Linked DNA regions of Homo sapiens. The protein of the gene in region 2 interacts with the protein of the main gene of each other region in a pairwise test. Each region holds a gene or a part of one and is shown on either strand. Other genes may lie near its edges. The genes, in order: MYBPC1, DYSF, PLP1 and MYOM2.

Region 1 (8,668 bases), on a different chromosome or scaffold from region 2:
TGGTTTTAATCATTACATATTCCAGAGGTAAAATTCTGAGGAAATCATTTTTATGGGTTTAACAGCCATTCATACTATTCTTTAATGAACAGAGATTCTGCCACGGAAGAAAGGCTATTGCAATTGTCTAGTTTGAGGTTGATAAAATTTCTTTTTGACTGGAAAAGAGAAATTTCCAGTGAAAGGTGATTTCTTGGCCGGGCACAGTGGCTCATGCCTGTAATCCCAGCACTCTGGGAGGCAGAGGCAGGTGGACCACCTGAGGTCAGCGGTTCGAGACCAGCCTGGCCAACATGGCGAAACCTCGTCTCTACTAAAAATACAAAAATTAGCTGGGCGTGTTGGTGGGCACCTGTAATCCCAGCTACTTGAGATACTGAGGCACAAGAATCACTTGAACCTGGGAGGCAAAGGCTGCAGTGAGCGGAGACTGTGGCACTGCACTCCAGCCTGGGCCACAGAGTGAGATACTGTCTTAAAAAAAAAAAAAAAAAAAAAGAAAGGTGATTTCTTTACACAGTAGGAACCGGGGGCAATTAACTTTCGGGCACTTACTTGTACTCAATTAATAATTGATATATAAATGAATGTATCAAAGGCATCCTGGGAGATCCCCACAAATCTGAAACTGCCTACAACATCCTCCCAATTTGATCGGAATAACTTAATTGTACTAGGCCTTAGGTTCTGTAAGAATCCAAAGTGGTGTAAGGTAAGTTTTATCTGGAATAGACAGTACAAATAACATAGTTCTCCAAAGAATACATAATATACAATTGATGATGGTAGAAAGTAGAACAATGGGAAGTGGTTACTCCTTAAGAATAATACTTGCTTTCTCCAAAAGGGCTCACTGAGCCACCCAGCATATTCCAAGAGTCTAAACAAGGACCGTTGACTAATTACTTCCATTAGACTTCCTCTTCGAGATCCAAAGTTACATCTGTCCTTCCTCCTTCTCCTTAGAAGAACCAGCTCTCCCAAGATCTAAGAAGAAAACTCCCAGAATTAGGCCACGGTAGGCTGGGAAGTAGTTGAGTGAGACATTTTTTGTACCTTCAGGTGCTGAAAACTCAGCCTCTTTTGAGGAGTTGCCAGATCCTCCTGGATCCTAGGAGGGCCAAACCAGCTCATGTGTCCTATTAAGATTCACAGCAAGTGGTCATGGCCTTCCTGGGCATGGCTTTACGAGCTGTGGGGAAGAGTTCAGAAGACCCATATGGGCTGGAGGAGCCTGTTCTTTGGGAGGGTTTCTGCAGGTATTTTGAAATGATTCTGAAGAACTGGCTCTAGGCCATGTTTTATTTTTCAGAGGGAGGCTTATATGCAATCAAACTAACCCCAGTGAAAATGAAATCACAGTTAGGAGAAGAAGAAAGGACCAGAATAGTTCATGAATTGCCGTACTCCTTACTCTTCTAATGTAAACAATATTAAAATGCAATTATTTCACTAAGGAAAGCTTTTCAAGGTACAGTTCCTTTAAGAATCAGTTCTGCTGGTAAGGGAACCAAAAAAATCTCTGTACTTCCTCAATGGATTTTAAATATATCAGTAACTCTTCTTGCCCCAATCCCCATCATCCAAATTTACACTAACCAAAGAATTTATGGGTATAAAATTACTGTCCTGGGTGGAGGAACTCCTACACAGAATAGCAACATGCTTTTATAGCAAAAGAAGATGATGGAGTCTTTAGCATCCATGCTGTTTTATTCAGAAAGAAAAAAATATATATTGGGGGGGTGGGGGCTGAAGTTAAAGATATATTTTCCTCTTTGCAGCTCTATAATTTCATTCCCCATAAAAGAGTGAATCAGACTGAGTTGTCAAATGAAAAGTAAACTTCATCGCCTTTGCGATCAGAATAATTTAATTAGCTTTATTGGCTCTTACAGGCTGTCACCTTATTTATTGGTTTTTCAGCTTTCTTCTCATTTTCAATTAGGCTTTAAAAAAACAAATGCAAAATCATTCACTAAATTCAGAATAATTAAAACAATATTGTGTTTCCAGTTTGGAAACATGGTAGAATGTATTGCTTCTGGGTACACTTCGGAGAGGTTAAAGTGACAGAGCAGATAAAAAGGACACTTAGTACACACGTAAATCATTTGCATTACAAATAAGATACTTTAGCAGGGGTTGGACTCCCTGCCTGACAGTCAGGATTAAGTTCCCATATTAATACATGCATTTGGTGTGGTTATTTTGGGTGAAAGACTTCATCCATCAATGCCCTCTGCCACTAAGTAAGGCCAACCTGTAAACTGATCACCACAGCCTGTCAACACTGGTTACTTAATTATATAAAGAAAATATGTTTAAAAGACTTTTGATAATTTGGTTAGTATTTCAACATCTTTTTCAAGGTTCCTTAAAATAATAGCTAAAGCATTTTTAAGAATTAAAAACTGAAAACTATGACTATTTTTATGTTTCCTGCTAATCTTTCTTTTTCTTTTATTTGCAGAAGGGAAAAATAAAGATTCAGTAAGCATTAATGAAGATGAATATAAATGAAATAATATTTTTAAAAGATATTTTAATTAAAAATTAAATTCAATGCATGCATAGTATTAATTTGTGCTTATTATTATTTATTTTCATAACTACTAATTCCAATTTACTTCTGTTACCAATTGGTAGCTTTAATACACTAATTTTTTTATAGAAAGGAGAAACTTTGTTAGGGAAAACATTTCTTCTAAGGAAGAATATTTTTATACTTTCAGCTTAACTATTCTTAAAGCCTACTACATATTATGAAATTCTCTACAATAAAACTCATGAAAGAACAATCTATTCATGATATTCAGGGACATCCTTTTTTATCAGGTGTTTGGTTTTCTTTCCATGCAAGAATTTAATAACGAACCTCCAAAGGCACTGATAAGAACAAAAAAAACCCTTCGTCTGTATATTTTAAATATGTTTCCATTAAAAAAAGTAGCAAATATGGAAATAATGTCACAAATTCTTTTTTGAAATCTTGATCCAATGTATTAACCATTTGAGAAAATATTTTAAGTCTCCTACTCTCTGCAAATTGCAAATACATGGTAAAAAATTTGTGATTAAATCTAAGAAAATATGCTTGAAAACGTAATCTGTTTACCATCAGCAATTAACATCCTTAAATTACACTTTAAGGATTCTTTACAATTGAATGATAGAATTATCATTTGATAATTTTAGTCAATATCCCTTTAGAAACTATCGTTATCAGAAATTTTTCAATTCAATATACTCTCGCTGTATTTTTCCTCTGGTCTGTTTAATCTAAAAGATCGTTTCCTTAAATCATAGTGATTTTATTTTCTCATCTAGTTAAGATATTTGTTATTTGTTTGAAGATAAATACCAAAATAAACACTTTATTCAGGAGTACAACAAAAAGATTTCTAGATAAGTCTTACCCTCTTTCTTAGTGGGTTCTGGCATGGCCACAATAAGATGTTATTCTTTAAAGAGTCTCCTTCCCTCCACGACTAGTTGACAGAAACCCCACAGGCAGGCGAGAGATGGTGCAGGTCGGTGTGACAAGCAGTTGGGGAGAAACCCAGTGCTTTTATACTGCCTCTGAACATCAATCATGATGGCACCTCCCTTTCTTCAGCACAAGGATGCAGGAACTTGACAGCTATGGGGACCTTTCTCACATCTGTTGTCTGCACTCTGCTCTCTCGCCTACTGGAAGGAATCTCCTGCCCATCTCATGTGGCTGATGAGAACACCTCTAACTTTCTAAATTCAGCTGCAGCCTCGTGCTCCGTCTTGCTCTTCTCTCTCTGACAGATGCATGTGCTGACTCAGGAGTGCAAAAAGTTTGCTGGATGATTAAAAAAACAAATTAAAAATCATAATATGCCAATCCAACCTATACCTTAATTTTCACTAAGATTAGGCAGAAAAGTCTTTGTATTCAGATGATCACTTTTATGCTCCAATTAGCTTTTCATTTTCATCAGTCCTTAATTATTGCATTTATATTTTTTCTTATTCCTCATTGATATGTCAATATTAATTTTTCAAGCCAAATCTCTAGGTTAAATAACTTGTCTCATGTTCTTCTCTAAGAATAGCAAAGATTTCTATTAGGGGATACTCTGCGTTTGCATTTTTTTCCAAAAACATCATTTTTCAAAATTATAGGACATATAAAAGAATGAGGCAATGACACATGCTACAACGTGGATGAAGCTTGAGAACATTACACTAAGTGAAAGAAGTCAGTCAGACATACAAACGTAGACTATAAAATAATAGATCACTGCTGGGCTCATGCCTGCAATCCCAGCACTTTGGGAGGCTGAGGGGGGTGGATCTCCTGAGGTCAGGAGTTCGAGACCAGCCTGAACAACATAAAGAAACCCCGTCTCTACTAAAAATACAAAATTAGCTGGGCATGGTGGTGCATGCCTGTAATCCCAGCTACTCGGGAGGCTGAGACAGGAGAATCACTTGAACCCAGGAGGCGGAGGTTGTGGTGAGCCGAGATTGTACCATTGCACTCCAGCCTATGCAACAAGAGCGAAACTCCATCTCAAATTAATAATAATAATAATAAAAAATAATAGAACACACATTGTACAATTCCACTTATATGAAATATCTAGGACAGGCAAATCCATATGGTGAGAAAGTATATCAGTGTTTGCCAGTGGCCTAAGGGAGGTGGAATTGGGAGTGACTGCCAGTGCATATGGGGTTTCTTTTGGTCATGATGAAAATGTTCTGGCATTAGATAGTGGTGATGGTTGTACAACTTTGTGAATATATTAAAAACCACTGGATTATACACTTAAAAATATATATGGAGGCTGGGTGCAGTGCTGGGGCCTATAATCCCAGCATTTTGGGAGGCCAAGGTGGGAAGATCACTTGAAGCCAGGAGTTGGAGACCAGCCTGGGTAACAAACCAAGACCCTGTCTCTACAAAAAATAAAAATAAAATAAAAAGATATATATGGGGCCTGGGCAAAGAAAGTCAAATAGACTAGTAGCTATTGTTTTGATTCAAGTGATTCAATTGGAGGGTACACAAATCTAACTTAAGATGTTGAAAGACTGTAGTAGATGTGGTCACTTTCTCCCAAAACGCTCATGGAACTGATAGAGAAATAGGAACTACCAAGTAGTCAACCTGAAGAAGACACCTTACTTTCTTTGTTCACATGCACTAGGACTAACCTGAGTTTATATGAAAAGACAACTACACACATGCCTTTATTGGTGTGTGTTTTCAAGATAATTTTCAAAAACTTTGATTGATTGGTACTGAAGCAGCCACACTGTCTCGTCTAATTTCCCTTGTGGCTGAGAGTGCAGCTGGTCAGACTTAGCTCTACCAAACTCTGTGCCAAGCTGACTTTTCATATAAGGGTGGAAACTAGACTTAGAACTCAATAGCATCATGCTTTAGTTATGTGGCGGGGAGGGGGAGGAAGCCAGTCAAGATGGTAATGAACATCTTTTATAAAGACAGCCCCTCCTTAACCACATTATACTACTGAACACATTTTTGTACTTTAAAAAAAAAAAACGTTCCTTTGCTGAGTCCGCTCTGGGGATATCAATTAATAGATGAAACATATGAAAGAACCTAGAATCTGAAGTTGGTCCCTTGGGTTCTATTTCTGGATCTATCATTAACCAGCTTAGTTACTCTGAGAAAGTCAGGGGGCTTTCTGGGCCTCAGTTTCTTTTTGTGTAAAATGAGGGGCTTAAAAAAAATGATCTTGGAGGCTGCTGATAGGTTTAACACTGTGATTCTACTTGGGAAATCTCTAAGAGAGAATTGTTTTTTTCAGCATTCCCAGCACACTGAACACCACATATGAAATGGACATAGGGCAGAGTGTCATGTTGCATAAGAATGTTTACAGCGAAGGGCAGATTTCACACATGCCACAAAAGAGGTGCCATGCCATCATTGGCTTCTGCAGAAACCCCATTGGGTTTTTAATACACTGATCGTCTTACTGAAGTGAACATATGCCAGGAAATATTGCAATCCACAGAGAAAGTATTTTATGACCTGGGGAACTTTTTGGTAATAAAGGAATTAATTATAAAAAGGCAAAGCATTATTATAGGAATTGGAAGTATGGACAAATTCTAGGACAAATTATTGTACAGTGTATCAGGTGGTTAAGGTAAAATTTTAAATTAGGATAACAAGTAGACTTGTGTAATTTTCCTAGGGCTATATTGTTTTAGGAATACATAACTCCTATTTCAGATCTTATGCATTCATCTAGAAGGTTGCAGATGCCTTAGCTGTACTCTCAGGAAAGACAGGGGGATGGTCAACAGGCTTTTGTTTCTTTTGCTAAATGCTGTATTAGATTTTTCCTTTTGTATTATTGAGGATGAAGTTTGTTCAAATACAACACAAAACTACAAAATACCAACAGTTGAATCAAGATAGAAGTATTTCTCCCTCATATAAAGCAAGTCTAAAAGCAAATGGCTTAGAGTCATACAGTGGCTTCACAGTGTATCCAGGAAACCAGACTCCTCCTTCTTGCTCTACCATCCTCCTGGTAACCTCATGGTCCAAAATAGCTGTGTATCTTCTAGACACTACATTCCTATTCCAGGCAGCTGAAAAGAAGAAGAAGAAGAAGAAGAAGAAGAAGAAGAAGAAGAAGAAGAAGAAGAAGAAGGAGAAGGAGAAGGAGAAGGAGAAGGAGAAGGAGAAGGAGAAGGAGAAGGAGAAGGAGAAGGAGAAGGAGAAGAGGAAGAGGAAGAAGTCACTTTCTTCATTTTAAAGAGACTTGTTTGAAGTCCCACACACATCTACTACATCCCACAGGCCAGAACTTGGTTACATGGCTATATCTGACTACAAAAGGAGCTGGGAAATGTAGTCTTATTCTCAGGTAAAATTGGAATTCTGTTATTAAAGAGACCAAGGAGAATGGATGTCAGATAGGCAAGTATCAATCTCTCACCTTTCAAAATAAAAGCAATAGTGTTCTCCGCGTTAACCAAAGAATATGGAGAAGTATAAATAGTAAATAAGCAATCTCAAGAATTTCACTCTCTCCCCAACCTCATCCTCATTCCAGTGTGTGAATTAGGGTCTAATTTTCCTTTGTGCTCATACATACGTGTATAAATGTATATATTCATATGTAGAGAGTTCTTCATCTATTTTTTAATGAATGGGATTATACTATTTACATTATTTTCCACTTTCTTTTTCCATGTAACCTCCTCTCACAGACATTCATTCATGTTAATATACATAGACCTAACTCAATCTTTTTTAATAGCTAAATAATTGTTCATGGTATGGATGTGCTGTAGTATGCCATATTTTCTCAATCACATACCTTTTGATGGGCATTCAGGTTGTTTTCAGTGTTTGACCACCATAACTAATACTGCAATCAGCATCATGGTAAAATAACAGAAACTGGTGGTGGTATGTCTCTCTGGTAAGTTGGAGGCACATGGCGGGTGTGGATGGGTGGGGAATAAACAACTTTAAACCTCTAATTCACACAATAAAGAAGAGCAAATTATAGAAGAAATAAAGTTTTAAGTTAAAAAATTAAACAATAAAAATATTTGAAGAACAATTATGACAGTGTTTGAATAATACTCTCATAAGTGGAGACACGTGTTAAAGTAAGAAAATCTAGAAGCTATAGAGAAGGTAACAGATTTGAGTAAATAAAATATTAAAATTCTTTATCTCTAGCAAAGACACCATAAAATCAAAAAGTAAAAAAGGAAAGGAGAAAAAGTTATTTTAAACCCATCATAGAGTTAATATTATTAATTTAAAAGTAGAGTAGAAGATTTCAAAAAGCAATTTACAGAAGAAATAGAAACCATGAATACATACGATATATTGCTTAAACTTTCAGGAAAATGGAAACAAACAATGAGTAATCAGTTCTCACCCATTAAGTTGGCAACTTTTTGTTTTTTTAATGATAACATTCAGGGTATGAGAAACCCGGCAATCTTATACATTGCTGATCAAACTGTTGGCTAGGTAACCTTTTGGGAAAGTGGTCTAGCAAAAATTGATTAAAATTTAAACTATGTATATGCACCAGCCAATTAGTAGGATCGATTCTCACTTTTAAAATCAATCCTACTAATTTAAAAGTATCCATATATAAGATTATGGTTCCTTTTTATTCCTAATAAATATTTGTATTTTCTCCCTTTCCGTTGGTAAGTTTTTCCAAGGTATAACTAATTTTATTGGTGCTTTGAAAGAACTAGTTTATGGTTTAATTATGTTTTCTCTTCCTGATTTCTTTTGGTCAAGTTTTTTTTTTTTCTATATTAAGGATTTAGATTAGACCTTATTTTCAGCCTAGGGCTTTAGCTATACCACATAGATTTTGATTTAATGTTATCATATTTATAATTTCTGAATAATCTGCAATTTGGTTGTCATTTTCTTATTGATCTAGGAGTTATTTAAAAGGGCATTTTTTGGCTGGGTGCAGTGGCTCACACCTGCAATTCCCATTTTTGGACACAGAGACAAGTGGATCACTTGAGAACAGGAGTTCAAGACTAGCCTGGGCAATATAGTGAAATCCCATCTCCGCAAAAAATAAAAAAATTAGCTGAGCATGGTGGTGAGCACCTGTGATCCCAGTTACTTAGGAGGCTGAGGTGGGAGGATTGCTTA
Region 2 (7,692 bases):
TCATAGATTACTTTTATAATTAGATACAAGTAAAATAATTTTTTGACTTAACCCTTGGGTTCTCAGAACAAGACTCAAAACATAATTAAGATTTAATTTGTTACAGAATGACTTGGGCTCAAGCTCATTCTTTTAAAAAATGCTTCTCCAGGTAAACAGACTTAGTTTTTTATCTTGTGACTTCTTCCCACAGGCAATGATTTGAGAAGACAGCGCAAAGACAAAGAAATCTCACCCACTGATCTAGCCATCAGGTCCAACCCAGTAATTTTTTTTTTTTTTTTTTTTTTTTTTTTTTGAGATGGAGTGTCGCTCTGTCATCCAGGCTGGAGTGCAATGGTGCGATCTTGGCTCACTGCAACCTCTGCCACCCAGGTTCAAGCGATTCTCCTGCCTCGGCCTCCTGAGTAGCTGGGATTACAGGCGCATACCACCATGCCCAGCTAATTTTTGTATTTTTAGTAGAGGCGGGGTTTTACCATGTTGGCCAGACTGGTCTTGAACTACTGACTTCAAGTGATCTGCCCACCTTGGCCTCCCAAAGCACTGGGATCACAGGCATGAGCCACTGCGCCTGGTCCCAGCAATTATTTATTGGGCAGAATAAATAATTCTAAGGTAACTTCTGACAACAGGCAGAACCAAGCCCCTTATTTTAAATTCATATTTAAAATACAAATTTAAAGAAGGAAGGCATGATATACTTGGATAGAGGGGAGAGGGGAAAATAAGCTTGTGCTCTTTCTTTCCTTTTGAGAAATCCTTGAAAATTTCAAAATGAGAAAATTAGTAACAATTACATCAAATTACATTAAAACACCATGCAGGCCAGGCACGGTGGCTCATGCCTGTAATCCCAACACTTTGGGAGGCCAAGGTAGCCAGATCACAAGGTCAGGAGTTCAAGACCAGACTGACCAAGATGGTGAAACCCCATCTGTACTAAAAATACCAAAAAAAAAAAAAAACTGCCAGGCGTGGTAGCACACGCCTCTAATCCCAGCTACTGGGGAGGCTGAGGCAGGAGAATCACTTGAATCTGGGAAGCAGAGGTTGCAGTGAGCTGAGATCACACCACTGCACTCCAGCCTGGGCGACAGAGCAAGACTCCATCTCAAAAAAAAAAAAAAAAAAATCATACAGGTCTCCTTTAGTCTGTGCAATTACTAGTTACCTTTACTTTACGTAATCTGTTAAATCCATTGGCTCTCGGTTCTCAGAAGAGGACTATTCACTTCTGGACTGTCTGGGACAAGTGAGGAGGCTGGGGCAGGGTTCCCCTCTCTCCACTGCCTCTCCCTCCCCCAGGGATCCATATCTGAACCCCACTCCCATCCCAGGGTGAGAGTGATGTCAGGGCAGAGAGCGCTGGGTCTCACTGGCCCAAGATGGCCAGGATGAGGAGGAGGGCTGCCCAAACTCAGATCTCACACGGCCTTCCCAGAGGTGGGGGAAAATCCAAATTACAAATAAGGGTCTTGATTCTGCTTGTTGGAAATAAGGGAAGAAGTACTTCCCTCCCCTCTCTTTTTGTCAGAACACTTACCTTAGAAAACTTGTAAATATATTACACTTTCCCTGTCTCTTTGAAATGCATCTTTTTAAGAAACTAAATAAGCCTTTTGTCAGCTTTAGTATACAAATATCATTCTCAGGACGTCTGAAATATAAACACCAAGGGAGACGGCTCCCCTGTGTCCCAGCTTCTGTCGGAAGATAGGAGCCTAACTCCCGTGCGCACCTTGCTCCAAGTTGTAAAACTACTTCCTGTCATAAAAATATGAGTTTGATTTTTGTTTGGTCTTCTGGACACAACAAATTAGCTAACATAGATGGTCACCCCGATTACCAGGTGACTTTGGGATGAACTCGGTGTGACCAAAGGTGCTATACATCTTTTTAAGAAACTAAATAAGCCATTTGTCAGCTTTAGTATACAAATGTCATTCTCAGGAGGTCTGAAATGTAAAGTCCCCTGACCTGAGGGTGGGGCATAGCTTCTCTTGAGAACGTATGTGGTGGGCAATGGGTTGGACCCGCTGGCTAAATTAGCGTGAGATTTCTTTCTGTCTTTGCAGCATCTTAGTGGATCATTGCCTGTGATGTACATCTCACTCTGGTTTAAGGCCTCTTCAGTGACAAAAAGTGCTTTCTTTCTCTTCTACCTTTGTGGAGAGGTTTTCTGGGGTGAAAGGAGATGCTGTGCAGAGGGCTTGGCGTTGTTCTTTGAAATTATATTTTCCCAAAGCAGAGAAACACAGGATCTCTGGAGCCCCTGCCCATGGTCCACAGAGGCTCCACCAACACGGAGAAGTGAGAACTGACTGCTTTCATAGAAAATAAGCAATTACCCGGAACTCCCCGAGGAGAGCATCTGTCCTGAGAGAACGAGAGTCTACCACCTGCAGAGAAAGATCATGGAAACTCACATTCACAGGGAACATGTGGCCCACACGGCCAACCCAATAGCTCTTCCCTCCCAAACAATAACTGCCAACACTTCACACTTACTCAATTCCAGAGACTGTTCTAAGCAGTGTTTAGCCCTCACAGGAACCCCATCAGCAGATACTGTCATTATCCCCATTTCACAGGTGAAATAGGGGCACAGAGACTTGTACAGAAAACACAATCCCTACACGGCATAGACAGAGCTGGAATCCACTCTAGTGCCGGAGCCTACACTTAGAGCCACTAGGCTGCAGTGCGCTTCAGAGGAGATGGGGGAAGAGCCAAGGCCCAGAGAGAAAGAGAATCTCAGTCAGAAGCAGGCACGTGGATTAACAAAATAAGATGGAACCTTAAATGTTCATTGCCACAAGTGATTTAAGGACCCTGACCTGAGGCCCCAGGGGGATGCTGAGCAGTGGGCTCTCCCGCAGCTGCTGCCTGCCAGCTGAGCTGTTGCAGGCATTTCTGTGACCCGTAGAGCCTGACTGTGAGTTACTCCACATCATCCATATGTCAGGCTTTAACACGTCTCCCTCTCACGCACATACTCACATACACACCGACAGGCACACACACGCATTCACGCATTCACACTGACGTGCACATGCACACACGTGCACAAACACACACGCGTGTGCACTGACACCTATGTGCATACATACAGCCCACGGAGAACACTTTGACTGCTGAGACATACCGTGATAAAGATGGGCTCATCAAACAGCTCCCCAGGAGAGTCAAACAAGTTGAAGAAAAGAGTCTGTTGGTTCAGAGCAAAGAGAGACATATCAGTGCCTGCTGATCCCTCAGGCCAGGGAGAGGGAGGACCACCACCCCCAAGCCTCCACGCCTAGCAGTTTAGTCCCCTCAGAAAATGTGGATTGGGCACAGTTCTGGGGATTGGACAAGTTCTGGGGTGATCTGCCCCTGGCCTCACAGACGTGGTCATTTCAGGGTTGGGTGGGTGGCTGGCCCTATAGGGTGACAGGGATGTGGAGCAGCAGGAGAAGTAAGAGCAGGAGCCCTTTCTCCAGTCCCACAGATAACCTCCTTGGGAGCCAGCACATCTCACCACCCAAGGTCAGCGCCATACGTAAACACTCTTGAATGAATTGCCAGGTGTCTGCACTGGGCTTCCAGATTGGAAGGCCCACCAAGGTTCTGGCCCTCATGCCCCATGTCTCCCACCTCATTGAAGAGTGGGCTGTTTCCCTTGTGGATCCGCGTCCGCTTGGTCTGCCCTGCAGCGGTAACCTTGACCACAGGCTTGATGTTCACCCCCGGCAGCTGGCGCCCCTCGATCACCTGGACCCTGATCTGAAAGCCAGAAGGAGGAAAGAGCAGGAGGAAGGGGGAAGAGTTAAGGACCACCCACCATCCACCCCAAGAGTCAGAAATCTCAGGGACCATCTCACCACTGGCTTCTTGGGGAAAGTATTAAAAAGGAATTAGGAAGAGCATTATACGAACTATCATATTTTCCCACCAAGGCCCCTTACATCTATAAAATTCCACAGCTCCATAGAAGAGCTGCCAGGCTGCCCCTCGTCGGCTACCCACATTAAACCCCAGGGGTGGGCAGATACAGCCCCCATTTATGTCATTCAGCCATTGGCACAAGCCCCACCCGAGACCCCATTGATACTGGCATTTTTAAGTGGCTTGAATATTCTTTATTGACAATTCCCTCAGAGGTCGAACTTACACAGTGAAGTGACCCCAGAAATAGTCTTTATTCTTTATAAGATGCAATGCTTTCTTACATTCTGAGAAATAAATTAAGAATTTTTGCCATTGAGCTGTAAGTAAATGAAGACTTCAAGAACGTCTATGCTTCCAAATATTAGGTAAGATATTTTAAAATATGAAATTTTACAATATTAAGGCAATTCTATGGAAAAAAATAAGATATTTACTGGCTCCACTTTAGAATCAACTGTTATTTACTGACCAACTGTTTTTTTTTTTGTAAATTGCATAATATGGGAGGATATATTCTTAATAGCAATGGGAAGATGGATGAGTGATTTTTAATCTCCTCATTTTAATATATTTTCCAAAGTGTCTAAAATAAACATATGGTATTTCCATAAAGAGAACAAAGGCAATATGAACATGTTTGGGGAATAGTAGTATGGGGGCTAGAATTTTGTCTTTTGGGGCAAACAGTGGTTAGAGCTAGGACTTCTGCTTAAATTACCATGATTTAGAATAGAAATATATTTTTGCAATTTGTTGCACTTAGTATTATAAATAGAGATTTAAGATTCTTGCTTTTAACCTTAAAAGTAGTTGTAAAGAGTTAAATATCACTGTGTGACTACATCAAAATAGAAAATTCTTTTGAAAAGAAAAAAAAAATAGGCAAAGGACCAAAGTTAAAAGCAAATAAAATGGGATGGATTTTTGGATAAAAATGTGTCAAAGTGTTCATATTAATAGCTTTTATTCTGTGATGAGCTTGAACAAATTCAAATTCCACATGACTCTCAGAAAAATCCATGGCTATATGCAGGGGGATAGATATAAGGAGAAAAAAAAGATGTTAGACAGAGCTTCTTTGAGGTAAGGATCTTGTTAAAATGCAGATTCTGGTAGAGCAGGTCTGAGTAGACTCTGCATGTCTAACAAGTATACAGGTGATGCGGAAGGTGCTGGACACAGACCACACCTGAATAGCCAGGAGCTTGCTGGTTGGATATACCCTGGTTAGAAAAATCAGGTTTTTCTCTGATCAGAGATGCAAAGACATGCTGAATCTCTGCAGTGACTTTTTTTTTTTTTTTTTTTTTAAGCGCAAAACCACAGGTCTCGGCAGAAGCTTATTCTGTGGATGTAAGATGTGAACTCCCTGTTTGGCATCTGCCCAGGCCCAGGGAAACTACAGATTCCCCCACAGGAGGGCCCTGAGGATCCCACACACATCTTCCCCTGAAGCTGGACAAACCAGGCAGGTGCCTGGCACCCGCAGCTGATGGCTGAAGAGGAGCCTGGGGTCAGAGAAAGCCCGTTCATCACCTGGAAATCCTGCGGTTTGTCTGACAGCAGCTTTCTAGATGTAGGCGCACTTCGCTTTCTTTTGATCCCGGGGTAGTGGGGCGGAGGACGTGAAGGTAGTTTCCTTGGGGTGGTGGGAGCCCCCGGGCCTCCGCTTTGATCCAGGAATGGCTCCGCCTCATCTCCAGTGAGTCCCTGGTCCTCTGTGTCTTCCTCTCCTCCTGTGTCTAAGAGGAGAGGGCCCTAATGAGGCCTGGATCCCTCTGGCCCTGCCCCTGCCCCTGCCCCTGGGACCCAGCCCAGGGGGCAGAAGATCCAAAAGGCATGGGCCCTAAGACTCATCCCCTCTTCCTCTCCCTCCTCCCTCCCCATCAGTGAGCCAGGATGGATAAGGTAGAAAGAAGAGGAGCTTCCAGCAGCTGAAACTTGAGGGCAGTCAGTCCAGTTAGTCAACAGGAAGAAAACAGAATGGCCCTAGCCCTCCCACCCGCCAAGTCCTGCAGGAGGAGTCCTCTGCCACCTGGCCCCGCTCCAGCAAGCTGACCATGGCAGCTAGTGAGACAGTTACAGGGAGGGTCTGGGATCAGGACAGTCCTGGCCCGTGTCTCACCCGTGGGGGCCGGCCACTTCTTTCCAGAGTATCTCGTGTCCATGGTGCTGTCACTGAGCAGGGACCAAGTCTCGGCCCGGCTCTGTCCCCCGCCTGTCTTGTGGGCAGGGCATAACCCCGGGAGGGGAGGGAGGAGGTTGGGGTGAAGGAAACCAACCTACTGCACCTCCATCCCCAACCCTGCCTTCCCCGCCCACCCCAGCCTGGTGCAAAGCTCAGAAATAGCTGTGGAGCCCAGTGGCACCTGTTCCTTCTCACCACCTCCCAGGCGTGTCTGGAAGCCTCCACTGATTGGCCTGCACCTAACTCTGTCAGATCCACCTCAACACAGTCCCAGAGTATTCGGACCCTCCCTGCTCCCCACCCTCTGCCACCACGGGCACCTCTCCTTCCTCCCCTGAGCCCACTCCAGCCACACAGCTCAGGATTACCAGGTTACTCCAGTCCAGACTGATCTCCCATCTCTAAGCTCGGACAGTGCTGAGCCCCAACAAGACAGCTCTGCTCTGCCGACCTCACCACAGAGCCCTGTGCTGGGCTGGCCCCAGGTCAGGCACAGGGCACACTCAATTGAGACATGGGCTGCTCCGGTTTTAATGCTGTGCTTGCTTCTAGCTCCCTTCACTAAGAGAAAAACTCTAGAATCTTTCCCATGGGCAAGTGCCCACTAGCCCGTCTATGTAGCTTCCTCCCAACCCCAGCAGGCTGGACCACATGGAGGCTCCCACACCCAGGCCCACCAGTGGAGAGCCAGCCACCCCGGGCTGGGTCCTCGCTTGACCAGCCTGGCAGAACCAAGTGAAGAGAGCTGAGACAGGCACAGCACTTAGCTAACTTAGTCTGCTCCCTTCACAAATAATCTATGGGCCCAGAGAGGGAAAGTAATCAGCCCAAAGTCACACAGAGACTCAGTGTCAAAGGCAGGACTGGAACCCTGAAGTTCAGTTCAGGGCTCTTTCAAGAAAAAAAACTAGTTCTTTTGTCACACACCATCACCAAAGGCCTGCTGGGTGCTGAGGTAGGGAAACATTCGGTTCTGGGGAGTTTGTGGGGCCTCAGGTATCACCTGGGTCAGACCCCATCCCCACACACCCTTCTTGGAACTGCACAGCTCAGAACACCCAGCCTGGGCTCAGCCCCGTCCCCAGGCAGCTGGGGCTTGGAGGCACCCTCACATTACTCCCTGCACCGCCCAAGGGAACGTGCCTGCTGCCCCTTCTTTCTGCACAGCAGAAGGCAGCCCTCAGGACTTCCCACCCACTGCACCCTCTTCTTTCCAGGCCTGGGCAGCCTCCAACCTGGGGAGGGCAGCAAAGGCTGGGAAGCCTCGCTGCAGCTCCCAGCCCCCAGGCTCAAGTGCCACTGCCGGCCTTCTTGCTGGGGCCCAGCCAGGCCAACGTGGGCTACCCACCTGCCACTACATCCAGGTCAGGCAGAGTCGGGGAGGGCTCCAGAGGAGTAGGGGGCGGGAACAGGGGCACAGCTCCAGGCAGCGGTGTGTAGGACACCTGCAGGACCAGCGAGGCCTGGAAGAGATGAGACGTGGGGGACAGGTTGGTGCGCTGGCCTCGGACCACTGCCCTCCAGTATCTTCCCTGTTTCTGGCATCCCTCCACCAAGGAATATGGCTCTGA
Region 3 (6,972 bases), on a different chromosome or scaffold from region 2:
GTTAGAAAAAAGGAGGTTTATGGTGTGTGGGAGAGCTAAGAACAATGGGTTCAATTGATAGACTGGAGATGCTCTCAGCTTCTGAGAGCCTAGAAACTCCATCTATAGATTCATCCCAGAGGCAGAGCCAAATAAGGGCAGATGGAAAACATAGCTTTCTTGGGAACTGGCTTTCGGTTCCTCTGAGGCAAAAATACAATCACTCTGTAGAACCCTGAATCAATTCTCCAAAATATGGTGCTGTGTCCTTGTTTGCAGTGTCTTAAAATAAGTCCCTGTCATATTTTTATTCTTTATGTCTTAAAGTCGTTCAACCAGACTCGCTTGCAGAATATTAATTGTGGTTAAGCAGAAATCAGGAAATTAAATTGAAACTGCTTTTGAATGGAGCTCCTTAACTGATGACTGACTTGTCATCCCTCCAGCTAAAGATTCCTTTCTCTCCAGTCATTTGCCAGCTGCAACTATGGGGCAATGAAATGATTTTAAGACAGCTTTCTTTAAGCTGGTCATCAGAGTGCTGTCCAAGGGTGCCAAATTCTAACCTAGGGTTGTGAAAGGGCTTTAATGCTATGTCCCCGGTGGGCTAGTAGGCTGGCCATCCAGGGTGGTAGGTGTCACTAATTTATTTTAGTACTGCCCTGCCACAGCCTGTTTACATTTACGTTGCCCTTTCCATACCTGCTCTGTCCTTTAAGTACTAAACCTTCCATCCAGTACTATCCAAATAAAACTAAATATTAGTCACGTATGAATTACTAAGGGATCATTACTGGAATATCCAAACAATTTAAAGAGAAGGTAACAATAACTTAAATCTAAATGCACCGGGGACTGGGGCACCACTAAGGTATTGAAAAAGTAACCATAGTTGACTCTGAACATTCTGAAACCCAACTTCGAAGAGAAAAGAAACCTTTAAGTAGGCAATAAATTGGTTTCAATATCTGCGTTTTAACACAAGCTCAGACATGTACTTACTGGATTTCTTTGGGCAAATTACTTTGCTTCTATTTCTTAGTGTCTTCAACTATAAAAGTAGAAGTAATCTATTCATATACTATTTATTTCAGAGAAATGTTATGAGAATGACTTGGATGAGCTGAAAAATGAATGATCTCCTTGAACAAGGTACGATTATTAAGTTTCTATTGTGAAGTCAAATAGAACAATTCACTCAAAGGACACGATGTTTGATTGAGAACATTCTTAATTTTATTTTCTTTAATTTTATAAAATACACTTTGTAAGATAAGTTTCTAAAAGTTTATCCTTTATGTGTGTTAAAATTGCAATTCTATATCAGAAATGAAGGAAACACTTTCAGTTGATTAACTCTCTTTGTGTGTGTATATATGTGTATGTATGCATGTGAGGTTTTCAGGGAAGGGTTGGTTATTTGTTATGTTATTAAATCAAAACAAAACACAAGGTACGGATTACTTCACTGTCCTTTATCTTGATTGGTTTCTTACAAAACATTTTCCCTCTCCTCCTTCTATGCAGCCTGGAAGCTTATCTTGTATACTGGTTTGAAAACAAGTATCAAGTGTCTTTTTGTAAAGCTCTTACATCTCCTTAAATATTGCTGAAACCACTTTGGGGGAAAAGAACAACACAACTCTTTACAACAAAAGAACTGTAGTACAAATCTTTCCTTCAATTAAAACCAATCAGACTTTTTTTTTTTTTAACCCAAAGTTAACAAAAACAGGAAAAGACTGAAATCTGGGAGCTATTCAGGTCTCAAACTCTTTCTGCCTGTCCTTTTTCCTGGAAGCTTACCAACTGAATAGCTGATGACTGGTGCATTCTGTTATGTGATCTATATCAGGAGAAAATAACCTTTATGTTAAACCTAACTCTTAACACACCAAGATAACATTGCTAAGTAAAATCATTTTCCATTAGCTAGAAAGAACGATCAGATTACTCAAATTGAGATTCAAATTCACCAAATCTGTTTCTGCAAAGGCAGAATACTTGTAGAAAATCCCAATAGATTCAACTAGCCAATTTTTAATATCATTTGTGATGCTTAATGTCCAATTTTCCTAGTTTAAAAAACAGTCATAATCAAAGAATTATTCTCCAGACATTTCTGATGCAACCCCAAATAAGTAATAAACAAACTGGAATACATGAAATGTGCATCATTCTAAAACAAATCAAGACCTTCAAATCACCTACGATGACTGAATGGATAATACCCCATGAAATGAGCACCATTGTGAAGATATGACAGAGGCCAGAGTACACAACTAATTAACAGAAAAAAAGACATGCTATCCAAAGAGTTATCTATCCTGTGTCTACCAGAGGGCCATCTCAGGTTACACCATTAGCCACCAGCAACTGCTGCTCCTCAGGCCAGTCTGTTCTCATGTAAGCTAGTTTCCTTCTATTCTCAGCTCCTTGGAAACCACAGGGTTGTCATGGTAGCTGTTATCAAGGAGAAGGGAGTGAGAAGATGCTGACAACACCCTGTTTCTCTTCCCTAACGAGGTGTAAGGCCAGATGCCCCCTTCGTCTACACAGATTCTACGCTCCCTTATGCTGTAAGTAAGGTTGGCTGAGTTAGGGCTTCAGTAGTCCATCGCCATCGGGGTCAGTGCTCTCTTTCTGTGGGTGAAAGATCCTTGCTTTGACCCCCTTCTCCCAGCTGCAATAGGCAGATTTGGGCAAACGCTCTTATTGTTTTTCTGACATTCTTTTTTCTTCTATCTTCAGTGGTAATAGAGAGACCAGAATGAATTCCATTTTGTACACCAAAGAGAATATATTTGGCCCCTATAGATGGCAAGAGGACCAAAGACATTCCTTCTCTGTACCTGAGCATCTTTCCTTCCACTTTGTTTCCATCAGTGGAAGTACCCTTTGAGAAGAAATTACTTTCTGATCCTCAGGAGATGCTTGAAAATTCAATTAGAGCCTCCATTCCTTTGTGACTTGCAGTTGGGAAGTCATCTTCTTAGGCATTTCCCATTTCTAGCAGGAACCAGCTATGAAGCAAAATGACTAAAAGAGGTACATAAGAGGGGAGAGTCCAAAGAGAGACCTTAATCACTGCAAGACTCTCCTTTCTTGTTACACTCATCAAGTAAGAAGAGGGCCAGTTGGTGGCAAAGGCAAAGAGTTAAGATGGGAGACGCAGCATTGTAGGCTGTGTGGTTAGAGCCTCGCTATTAGAGAAAGGGGGATTTCTACGGGGGATCAGAACTTGGTGCCTCGGCCCATGAGTTTAAGGACGGCAAAGTTGTAAGTGGCAGCAATCATGAAGGTGAGCTGTAGGGAACAGAAGAGAGAATGTGAATGAGAGTAGAAAAGAAAGCACTCCCTCCTCAAATCCCTTTGGGAATGAGGAAGGGTAGAAATAAAATCATAACTAAATAAGGGAAAAACCCATGCTCTGCAAAAAGCAGTACATCCCAGGCTTGGCTTTCTCCATATACACTTGACTGGAAGTCCGATGTCTCTGAGGCATCATGGGTCTCATGGCCCAGGCCCAGAGAATCAAATCATAAAGATTTATTCCACACCTCTGTTTGATCTAGCACTGAGTTTTCCTCAGGGAAGTGAACAATATTTGGGCTTTGCCACATCAATATGTCCGAGTGACTTAGAGTCATAGGGTGCTTGCTGTAGACACACAGCCACATCATGCAGTAGAGCTCTCCCCTGGTTAATGAATCAATTCGTTTTACAAGGTGAGAAATTACTTGACTCTGTATGGAAACCTCAGCAGTAGGGGCCAGGAGTTCTGTGAGCTCATCTTGTCTGATCACTGCTTATAAAATAACTTCAGATAAATCACTTCACCCTTCAGTGCCTTAGGTTTTTAATCTGCACAATGAGCACACTACATTCACAGGGCACTGTAGCACTATCAGCAAGACCTGGGACATAGCATTGTATTATAATCATAACAATTCTAATAATGTTAGGAGGTCCTCCCAGTATTTCCATATGAGTAACTAAATCCACTGGAGAGTATCCAAAGTGGATTCATATTGATAGTATATAGAATTCCAGGCTATAGCAAGTCATGTTTCGTGATGTTTCAGTGTTTTGTCACTGATCTGATCAAAATGTATTGAGAATTAACCGTAATTTATGACTGCAAAGTACTTGGCAACATTACATGTTCTATAAATACTAAATATTATCATTCGTGTCTATGAATCTCTTACCTCTTTCCTCATACCACTTTTCTTGTTCCCATCTAATTTGTGATGTCTTTCTGCCTTGCCAATGCAAGTAGAAGTACGGAGCCTCCACCCTTTGCTATCTTCCCAGAAGCTTCCCTCCAGCATTTCAAGGATGGAAGCAGTCTACCTTCTTGCCTTTCAGAATAGCTGTACCCACACTATCTCAGGCCTATTTACTTGCCAAGATCATTCAAAGTCAACTCACCAGGGAAACCAGTGTAGCTGCAGCCCCCACAAATGCAGCAATAAACAGGTGGAAGGTCATTTGGAACTGCAGGAAAATGAAAGAGGAAGAACTGTTTCTTGCAACAGCAGTAATATGCTCCACTGTAAATCATGAATACAGCTTTCTGAATGTGTTGATATCTTTCTTGTGTGCTAATTCCACATCTCTAACTAAGTTTTCACTTCCCTAAATGTGGGCCTCCCAGTCTTCAGTGTACACCATAGCACCTGGCCCATTAACACCCAGATCACAGAATAGTCATGAAATAGTACAGTACTCCAAAATAATTAACTGGTTCCCTACAGTTGTGCCCAGGGGCCCAAAATTTAAAGTCAACATTTTGCTGTCAAAGAAATAATTTACTGCCTGTCTCCCCCGGATTTACTTTTATTCCCCTGCCTCATTTGTATATAATATCTGTTCTCAATACAGTGCTTTCCCTTTCAAATGTACTTATTTTACCTCTCATTTGAGATAAAGAAGTTCCAAATTGAAAATGTTTTCATAAAACCTATGAATGCCTCTGTGCACAGCCCATTTTCTTGATATGGTTTTTAACTAAAGGAATGAAAATTTTCATGTGGGGGATTTTGCCATTAGGCTCTATCTTTACCTAAAGCTACAAACTTCTCTTTTAAGAGGGGAAGGGTTGGAAAGGAAGTCTTTCTATGCAACTCTAGAGAAAACAGGTGTTTTACCTTCTATGCTCATTGGCTCAGGCACACTTAGCCAACATGTTGTAGAAGGCAATCGGCTAATTCAAAATCCAGCAAAGGGAAACTTTCAGTCCTTAAAATTGAAGGCCATGGGTGTAATTTGTATGGTATTAGCTACTCCCTTGTAAAATAACCCAAATAACCCACTCACCTCAGCTGTTTTGCAGATGGACAGAAGGTTGGAGCCACAAACCTTGCCAGGGAAAGCATTCCATGGGAGAACACCTAAGTAAGACACAAAAAGCAAGCAGGGTAAGCTTTATGGAGTTACGGGGCCACATGGAGACTTTCCCCCAGAGCCCTTCTTCCATCTCTAATTATCCTGGCTGTAAAGTTGGATTCTACCAACAATCAGGATCCTCTTTTCTACAGGTTTACAAAAAAGAGAAGGTGGTATTGAACAGTGGTGAAACCTTGTGTTTGTTATTGAAATGTGCTGCTTTGGGGTTGTGAACAGCAGTCAACTAGAGTAGGCCAATGTGAATGGCCAAGAAAACTCCCACCACTTCCAAGTTCCCTTCCCGGGGAAGAAACCTCTCTGGTTTCAGTAGGGAAGGATTAATAAACTAAGACCCAATCATTCATCATCTTATATTTTTCTCATAATCACCACCCTCCTTACACTAAGAAAATAACCAAATATATAGTGCTTCCATAGTGGGTAGGAGAGCCAAAGCACCCGTACCCTAACTCACCATACATTCTGGCATCAGCACAGAGACTGCCTATACTGGCAGAGGTCTTGCTGGGGAAGGCAATAGACTGGCAGGTGGTCCAGGTGTTGAAGTAAATGTACACAGGCACAGCAGAGCAGGCAAACACCAGGAGCCACACAACGGTCAGGGCATAGGTGATGCCCACAAACTAAAATGATTGACATGGGGTGGTTAGAAATCAGCATCAGCCTGCAGATGTAGAAACACAAACTGGGAGATCCTGGAGTGGCGTGTGCCAGACATTAAAACCAGGTTCCAGGGCTCTCCTTCAAATGAAATTAGTGAGCAGGGCACCTCTGCCAAGGGTAATTGGCAGTATCTACTAGATAACTGGCCCCAGTATAACGGAGGGTGGGGGGAATGGGTAGGGGAAGAGTGAGGAGGATCCCTGGGTTAGAGAGGCTTCAGAGGATGTTTTTGGGCAGATAAGGTGTAAAGAAATCAAAACAGATCTTGAAAGAAAGTCGTGCCATTTTGTGCCTTAGGCTGAGCTTAGAACATGTTCCTTGCCATAGGAACATTTTTGTTCCCTAGCCATTGAACAAAGCCAATAGGAGATTAAAATTTCAGATACAAAACCTTTCTAAGCTAACTGCTGGCCACAAAAAGACATTGCTGGAACCCACACATGTTCAGCCGCCAAAGGATCTTTAACTCCAGAGACTGAAAACAAATGTGCACCTCACTCAAAGCATGGATAACCCTCAGGCAATAAAACATTCAACATGCAGATCTACTCCAATTCCCTCTGGGACCTCGAACTGTGCAGGATCCCAGAACATTGTAAATTTCACCTTGGAGTTAATTATTTAATTTTTATTATCCATCCTCCCTCTCAGATCAGGTGCCCAAGTCTCAATCACATGAGCAGCATTTTAGACTCTTGTCCAGTTAGATCCACTCTTGTGGTACCTACTAGGAAGGGAACAAAGGGATACCAACAGATGGCTTAGAAATGGTCTGATTGTACAAAGCATCCCACAAAACTCATGCTTTCTGTTTTGAGAAGAAATTTGCTTAGGGAACCTTTGAAAGGTGAGGCTAAGCCAGCTGGGCACCACGTTCTTCCTGACCTTCTCGTTCGGCTGCAGCCATCGCTTCCTCAC
Region 4 (8,652 bases), on a different chromosome or scaffold from region 2:
AAGGTATCTGAGAAAATCTATGTATTGCTTCACTATTTGAAATCTCCCCAGATGCAGCTCACTGGGATTTTCCAATGAGTTAATCAAGGTGGATCTTCAAGAAACGCTTCCTGCTCAGAAACCCATTTACTCTCTCTGGAGTTCACCAGCAGGGTGCTGGGAAGAGCTCACTGAAATGAAGTTGGACCAAGGTTGGGGAAGACGTTTCAGCTTCCATCCGGTTTCCTATCCAAGGTTCTTCTGGGATCAGCCTGACGAATACCAGGCAATTCCACTCCAGCAGACGCATGAGCAATCCCCAGTACCTGCTATTGCAGCAGGGGCTCATGTGTCATCACAGTATCTACTTACACTTATGTTGAGTTAAACCTCAGATGTGTTTGTATTTCTTGGTAAAGGGAAGAGTCAAAATGTGACCTATTAGGTCAAAGGAGAGAATGAGCTACATTGAAATAAGAGGAGAATCGCCCTGGATGGAAATCCTCCTCCTTAGACCTAAGACCTGGAAGAATGTGAAACGGCTCAGGTCTTGAGAGCTCACAGACTAGCTATCCTTCAACCAGTCTGTAACGTCCTGTCCAATGCAACCTATGTATCACTGACGTGACATCCGGTCCTGTGGGCCTGGAAGTCTTCAAACACTTCATGTGTGAGGGGCTACACTTTGTAGTGCTTAGCAAGGCAGAGCTGGGATCACGTGTGCACACTTCCTGCAATCCTCACTCCAATGGTACCTTACTGTGGAAGTCTCCCCGGGAAGTCTTTGGATGGGGGTAACAGGGCACTTTGCCACGTTTATCCCCACATGTATTCCCTGCTCACTTCATGCTCAGGACCACCAAAATCAGGAGGTGTCAGAGGCTTTGCAGAATCCATCAGCCTCAGTTGATTCCACAAGTATGGGGTCACTTGCAACGTGCCAGCCAAGCCTAAATCAGAACCCTTGGATTTCAACAATGAAAACACCTTAGAGCTCCTGGCTCGGGAGAGTAGCAAGCTCAAGTCTTCTGCGCATTTGACTCCCAGTGCCAATGTGCCCTCAACTCCACTTTTATCAATCACATGCCCAACCCAGAAAACCAGCAGGACTGCACGTCCAGCCTCACCCACCCTGAATGTGTGTCCCCTCCGCAATCTCTTCACTCCTTGGGGGACTTCCTATGTTAGAACTTCCCCAGTGTCCCTCACCCAGCCTGGGCCACCACCTCCTGGCCGGGTGTGATGACGTCTTTGCAAGCAAATCCCCACTGACTCAGCACGTGCTGGGTGCCTGCAGCCCTGGCAGCACAGGGCCCTTCTGAGTGGAGGGAACCCTGGAGAGGACTTGCCAAATGCACCCTACAGGTGGAGCATCCCTTATCCAAAATGCTTGGACCAGAAGAGTTTCCAATTCCCGATTTGTTTTTCAGACTGTGGAATACTTGCATTTATACTTACTGGTTGAGCAACTCAAATCCAGAAATTGGATACTTGAGATGCTCATGTAAGCATTTCCTTTGAGAGTCATACCAGCGCTCACAAAGTTTCAGAATTTAGAGCATTCTGGATTTCTGATCTTCAGATTTGGAATGATCAACCTGTACTATTTATGACACTATAAAGAAAATGACAGGACCTGGGCCGATCAGCTCCCCAATGTCCCTCTACTGTCTACATAGAAAGCTGTTTTCCTTTTTAAGGAACTATCTCAGACATGTGTTAAATACCCCCTACACACACCAACCAAAAAAAAAAAAAAGAAAAAAGAAAGAGAGAGAGAAAGAAAGCAGCTTTTCCTCGCAGGGTAGTTTTTGATGTGAGTCCCTGGGGCTCAGGCGCATTGGGAGGCTGAGACTCCAGTGGGGACCTGCTGACCTTCAGCTCAGGGGCCTCCACCTGCTCTGCTGTAAAACAGGGGGCTGAGTGAGGTGGCAGCTAACAGTCCCCCAGCTTGGACAGCCTGTGTGTAGATAATCCTGGCGCCACGCTGTACTGTTAGCACAGACCGTCCCCAGGGAAATATGACTTGCCCGGGTCACCGGTAGGGCCACGGCCGAACCCAGGCGCCAGCTGACTCTCCTGACAGCGTCCAGCCCACTTTCCACCACAGCCCAGCTCCCCGGCCACTCCCGGAATGCTCCTGACACGTTTAGGAATCATGACACCAGGATGAAACGCGAGCCTCTCCTCCAGTGCAGGGGACCACGTGTCTGATATCCCCATCCTAATTCCTTCCTGCAAACAACGTGTGGAGCCCATTCCTCATGTCACCAGGATGGGTTTTAATTTGCAAAAATGTTTGAAGTACAAAACATTGACTTCCACTTAATGAAGGAAATTGTTTGTACAGTTAAAAATGTCAAAGTCAATAAATACACCAAATTAAAGCTTTCTAGAGGGGAAAGGGACTCCCAGACACGCAGCGTTGGCCTGTGCCACAAGTGGCTAAGCCCTTGGCTCCCAAGACAAGTTTTAGCTTGGGACTTGGTTTATTAAATAACGCCTTAAATTATCTTTGTTCCACGCTTTCTTTGAGTCCTGTTTTACTTCTACTTAGTAAGAAAGGAATGTGAAATGGAGAATTAGAAAAGGCCAGGTGTTCCCAGTGATGGCAAACCCCTTCCTTCCGTTTGCCTCCGGTGCCTTCCACGTGCAACCACCCAGCCCCACTGTCTTTCTCCAGCAGGTTGCATTTCAAGAGCACGCCCTGAGAAGGCACAGCCTCTATCAGCGGAGTGGAGCTGAAGAAGTCTGAAGGGTCACAACACACCCAACAGCACAAAGAAGAAAACAGCCGTAAGAACGCTGTCATTTTTGGGCAAAAACTTGCAAGTCCTGACAAGGATTGTTCTCTTTCCCATACCGTGGATAATATAGGCTAGGTCTAAGCTGAATGACCCTCGACTCTTTTTTCCCTTAAGAAAATATCCAGTTTTATTATTTCACACCTTTATAAGTCAGCCCTCTCCTCGGGGGAGGCTTTCGTTTCTGAGAATCTCATGAAACTTGCAGACATCAGTCCACTGACTGGGGGGCCCCCTGGGGCCACGATGAGACCAGGGCTAAAACCCAAAGCACACGCCGCAGGGTGCTAAACGGCACTTAGCAAAGACCACGGCTGTGGGAAATAAAATGTTAGTTGAGCATAAAACCTCGTCAAAGAAATACAGATCCCAGAACTAATTGCTCTGTTTTCCACAGTAAAGGGTGCCTGCGACGGGGTGCACTGGCTCTCTCTTCTTGACCCTGAAGTAGAGGTACTTAGAAAATGTGAGTGCAGAAGTTACCGGTCCTCCCCTTAAAGCCACAAATTAGAAAAGGCAAGAAGAGAAAGACACTTACCCAGACAGAAAGGAAAATTGCAAGGAGGAGAGAGAATTCCTGACCACCGGCTCACCAAGCCACCCACACTCCAGCCGAGGAAGGCAGAGCTGACTCCTGCAAAGCAAGCGCCTGTGCCTCCCTCCCGTTTAAGGTCTGAGGAGCTACTATATATAGACGCCTGGGCCTGCCTCTCCCCACATCAATACCCACATCGTAAATCACCAGCCTGACCTCAGGAGGAAAAGCTTCTTGTTCAAACTGAGGGCGGGGGAAATCACGATTCAAAACTGGAACGTGTCCTTTCTGAGTCCCAAACTGCACTTTTCCCAGGAAACCGGGTGTGACACTTCAGCCCCCGACCCAGAAAGAGAGGGCAGGGCACTGACTTCCCACGCTCCCTCCCCGCAACTCTCCTCCATGAGTTCTAATCCTTACGTGTGAATTCTCAGACATATCTTCAATCCTTTCGAGCTACAGGTTCCCTGGCTCACAAATTGCAACTCCTGAATGAGTCTTTAATAATGACATGGATTTCAGTGAGCATTTGTGCCATTCGCAGGCCTGGACACCCGAGTTGAGGTCGGCTGTGGAGGGAGGGAGGTGCACAAGCCCCTGGGTTTGTGAGCGTGTGTGTGCATGTTCGTGTGTTTGTTCGTTTTTTTTTTTTTATTTCAAGAACGACTCAGGTCTTCACTCGATTGTATCTTAGGGCTATTTTAGCAAGAACTGCCTACCCAAAAGAGGAGCGGTGCCTAGTCGGCAAGTCGGGGCTTATTTATAGCCATTACCACAGACGTACACTGCGTCTACACCACACGGATAATTGCAGGGTGCCCGTCGTTTCGCACAGCGTGTGTCCAAATATAGATAACACACACCTGGCACGGTCCTGGGCTGCAGCCTGGCCAAGAGGCGGGGCCTCAAGGGGATGCCCCCATCTGAGGACCCGGAGAATCACACTCCAGCTGCACCTCACCACAGGGGCTGAGGACTTCGGCCAGCTGCTCAGCCCACGGGGGCTATGCTCCCCAGCTCTAAAACGCATGGAATAACAACTTTCCTGTAAGTTTGTTGTGACAAGTAGAGAAAATATGATAAGAGAATTGCCTTAAGAAACTCCACGTTCTCACACTGGGGTATCAGAGGCACAGCCAAGGACCAGCGAGCAGGTGGATGGAGGCGAAGATCAGATACGAGAAAGACGCGAGCACAGCCTCTTGCTGGGCCCCAGAGCGTTCTGGATGCTGGATCAGGAGGCGAGTGTTTCTGTCTTCTTCCCCTTCGTATTCTGATGGCCTAGCATTTAATTTAATTAGTGTTTGTTGAGTGATTTCTTAGTCTATTCAGGCTGCTTTAGCAAAACACCATAGACCGTGTAGCTTATAAAACACAGGAGCTTCTTTCCCACAGTTCTGGGGACTGGAAGTCCAAGATCCAGGTACCAGCAGACACTGCCTGGGGAGAGCCTTCTGGTTCTGGGACGGCGCGGTCCCTGAGTCCTCACCAAGTCAAGGGGCCAGGCCGCTCTTGGGGCCTCTGTATGAGGATACTGATCCCACTCGGGAGGTTCCACCTCCATGACCTTGTCACTTCCCTAAGGCCCCACCTCCTCACACCATCGTTTTGGGGGTTAGGGTTTTAACCCACATATTTTGGGGGGGTTGCAAACAGCAAGACCAGAGCAAGCAATGTTTACTTCCGGTTTATCAGCATCTCCTTCTCTAGCGAATCCATTTCTCAGGGACCTGGGGGACTTCCCTTCAGCCCTTCTGCCCCCCTGCCTCTGAGTGTGGCCGACACTGGAGGGGCAGTGATGGTGCCTCGTCCCCTCAGGTGGCATCTCAGTCCTCTGAGTCCCAGTCCTGGCATCTCAGTCGCCTGGGTCCCAGTCCTAGCATCTCAGGAGGGGACAATCTCATCCCGGGGAGGGGCCTCTCCTGAGAGAAGGAAGGGCCAGCACACTCCTCCTCCTTTTCTGACATTTCACGGTGGCTGTGCCCTCCTTCTGTGATATAGAAATCCAGTGCTGCGTCTAAGAAAGCCTGGATCTTTCAGCCACACCACCCAGAGAGCAGAGTGTGACCCGGGACACAGATAGGCTCCTGATGGGGACAGAGCTTCGCCTTCTGCTGGGGACAGGAGACCCCTCCCCACCCTCCTCGTAGACCCCCATCTCCCTGAGCCATGCCTGCCCCTGCCCACCCGGGATGTAGCTTCCAAAACTCCCTGGGTGAGGTGCACCTGCAGGAAGCCTGGAGCCAAGAAGGGACAAAAGACGGAGGGAGGCGGTGGGACCAGGCATGGGCCCCGCATTCTCCACCAGACACACCAGCTCTGGGGCAGACAGGCTCCTTCTTGCCGGAGTTCCTTGGGCTGACTTTCTATCATCGGCCATCAAGAGAATCCTGACTAAGACAAAGGAAGAGTCCAGCAATCTCATTTCCACAGCTCAAATTGGCAGCCTGTGAATGGAAAACAGTTGGCCTCACTGAGGATTTCCCACAACATAGAAAAGAAGATCGAAATGCAAAGAGTGACATTCTAAAACCACGTGCCTTCAATCCTGTGGAACCCCAGGCCAGACCATTCATGGGTGAAGTTATGTTCTATACAGCAACAATCCCCAACTGTTTTGGCAACAAGGACCGGTTTCGTGGAAGACAATTTTTCCAAGAACGGTGGAGAGGGGGATAGTTTTGGGATGAAACTGCTCCACCTCGGATCATCAGGCATAAGATTCTCATAAGGAGCGTCCAGCCTAGATCCCTCGCGTGTGCAGGTCACAGTAGGGTTTGTATTCCTGTGAGAATCTAAGGCCGCGGCTCTGAGAGGAGCTGGAGCTCCGGCGAGAATACTCAGTGGCCGCCATTCACCGCGCCATGCGGCCCAGCTCCTCACCGGCCACGGACCCCGAGGCTGGGGTTCAGGACCCCTGTTATATTGCACAGAGCCAAAACTGACATTCGATTCAGGAAAATCAGTTTGGATATTTGAAAGAAATAAAATTATTCTTAAGATATTTTGTTCACTTCCATGCATTCCGTCTCAGAAAACAAATTTTCTGTTTTTTAGAAATTATTTTAGAAATTATCCATGTATTTTAGAAATTATCCATCCCATGTATTTTAGAAATTATCCATCCAACAGGCCAAATATTCAGTTTTATGATTCAAAGGATGACAGCTCACCAGAAAGAGGCTTCGCAGTTGCAGCCACAGCACAGGGAGGGGCAGGGGGTCACCCTCCGTGCTCTCCCAAACCAGGGGGTGATGAGGCCAACAACAAAGGCGTCTGGTCCCCACAGAGCACGTGTGCACAGGCCGCAGAAGGGAGACTGGAAAATCTGGAGGCAGAAAACTCCCTTGAGGGCATCAGCCCCCATCAGCACTGCCTCTCATTCCCAAATCCTGAAAACCTGAATCTCAGAAAACAGCCCCACTTTAAAGAAAAGAGTTTTTTTCTTTATTTTTATTGACTGATGACTGATTGATTGAGATGGCGTCTGGCTCTGTCGCCCAGGCTGGAGTGCAGTGGTAACCTCCGACTCTTGGGTTCAAGTGAGCCTCCCACCTCAGCCTCCCAAGTAGCTGGTATTACAAGTGTGTGCCACCAGGCCCGGATATATATATATATATATATATATATATATATATATATATATATATATATATATATTTTTGGTATTTTTAGTAGAGACAAGGTTTCACCATATTGGTGAACAGGCTGGTCTCGAACTCCTGTCCTCAAGTGACCCACCCATCTCGGTCTCCCAAAGTGCTGGGATTACAAGCGTGAGCCACCATACCCAACCTTGTTCCTTTTTTCTGCCTTTAGAATGTCTTTGTTCCTATTTATGGTTGTGCAGTTCTGTATTTAGAATTTAAACCTCAAGAAAATCACATCCACTTAGATGAATTAACTGTAATGTTTAAATGTGAACCTTCTGAAAATGTTGATTGTGAGAGTAACCTTGTTTAGAGAAATACAATTGTCACCTTCTTAATTTCCAAGAAGTTCAATAGATGTCTCTTTGAGGCCATGCTTAATCCACTAATTGATGAAATAGGTCGCTGACATTCAGAGGAAGCGCCTTCCTTCTAACATTTCATTAAGTCAGTTAAACACGTGTCCACAGAAAGCAGCAGCTCAGTAATGAGGAACCCTTTAGCGACATGAATCGCACAAATTCCCAATGTTTCCAGCATTTCTGAATCATTTTCCAGGAAAGTAGGAAAATAAATGCTTAGGTTTCCTTTGCTTTTTTTTTCTTTTCTGCAAAATTTTGACTTTATTTTATAGTCCTTAGTAAGTTTACCTGCTATCTCTTTTGAGGCCAATATTATTATAACTACACATCAATTTCTGAGTAAAGATTTCCCCAACTACACCATCTTACTCTTCCCCAGACACTCTTGCCACAGCAGCCACCAAAGTGTGGGCTTCTTCTCTCCAAACTTAGCACATTCTCTGTGCTTAATAAAGGAGTTCTGAACTAACTGCCCAATGAATGGATTCAAGAGACATGAAGAACTTACTATTGTTAAGTATAATAGTTAATAGTGGCTCAGAACTAAACAGAAATATACAGAATTGACAAAGCTAGGCTATATTTAGTAATTCTTTACCTCAGCTCAAAAATATATATGGTAGATAGATAGATAGATAGATAGAAAGATAGATAGATATTGATATAGATAGATATAGATATAGACACTTTAAAATATATATACTTTTAAATACATTTAAATTAATATTTATCAAGCATTTACTATGTCTCAGAGTACCAGCAAGTCTTAATACTATAACTCTATGTAGTGGGTAATATATAAGACATGAGATGTCTGAAGTAGACTTTCACTTTTATGTGTGATAAAGTTGCTTCTAGTAGGACAACATTCTTACCCAGAACAAGTAACAATCCAGATAAAATACAGAGTGTGAGAGATGGCAAAAGAGTAATGAAAGAAAGAGAGAAAAACAGATAGGTGAATGGACATATAAGCTGATGGGCAGATGAATAGACAGACAGATGATGATGATGATAGGTTAGATAGATTGATTGATAAAGAGATTGATGGTATATGAGTTACATGATAGATAATAGATAGATGATAGAGTGATAGAAAGATAGATGATAGGTAAATAGATAATATATGATAAAGTGATAGAGTGATGATAGAGATGAAAGATAGACATAGATCAGTGATGGAAATAGATCAATAGGTGATAGATAGATAGACAGGATACACAGACAGACAGATGATACACAAGAGAGCTGTGAGAGCAGCCAGTGGTTCGAGGCCCAGTCCTAGTGAGAATTGTGCTTCCTGAAGTGGGCACTCTCTCTGC

What was found.
Region 1: the proteins of DYSF (region 2) and MYBPC1 interact in binary tests that used the Homo sapiens proteins (3 or more experiments, as listed by UniProt).
Region 3: the proteins of DYSF (region 2) and PLP1 interact in binary tests that used the Homo sapiens proteins (3 or more experiments, as listed by UniProt).
Region 4: the proteins of DYSF (region 2) and MYOM2 interact in binary tests that used the Homo sapiens proteins (3 or more experiments, as listed by UniProt).

Annotation. Positions count from the first base shown.
Region 1 is NC_000012.12:101,589,847-101,598,514, reverse strand, and holds the start of MYBPC1 (myosin-binding protein C, slow-type), read right to left. Parts: upstream 3,545-8,668; 5' UTR 3,445-3,544; coding exon 3,420-3,444; intron 1-3,419. UniProt on the Homo sapiens protein: Thick filament-associated protein located in the crossbridge region of vertebrate striated muscle a bands. Slow skeletal protein that binds to both myosin and actin.
Region 2 is NC_000002.12:71,511,699-71,519,390, reverse strand, and holds part of DYSF (dysferlin), read right to left. Parts: intron 7,585-7,692; coding exon 7,470-7,584; intron 6,152-7,469; coding exon 6,059-6,151; intron 5,676-6,058; coding exon 5,470-5,675; intron 3,769-5,469; coding exon 3,640-3,768; intron 3,212-3,639; coding exon 3,149-3,211; intron 2,403-3,148; coding exon 2,352-2,402; intron 1-2,351. UniProt on the Homo sapiens protein: Key calcium ion sensor involved in the Ca(2+)-triggered synaptic vesicle-plasma membrane fusion.
Region 3 is NC_000023.11:103,786,840-103,793,811, reverse strand, and holds the end of PLP1 (myelin proteolipid protein), read right to left. Parts: intron 6,015-6,972; coding exon 5,846-6,014; intron 5,376-5,845; coding exon 5,302-5,375; intron 4,480-5,301; coding exon 4,414-4,479; intron 3,286-4,413; coding exon 3,214-3,285; 3' UTR 1,193-3,213; downstream 1-1,192.
Region 4 is NC_000008.11:2,039,838-2,048,489, reverse strand, and holds the start of MYOM2 (myomesin-2), read right to left. Parts: upstream 3,445-8,652; 5' UTR 3,322-3,444; intron 1-3,321. UniProt on the Homo sapiens protein: Major component of the vertebrate myofibrillar M band. Binds myosin, titin, and light meromyosin. This binding is dose dependent.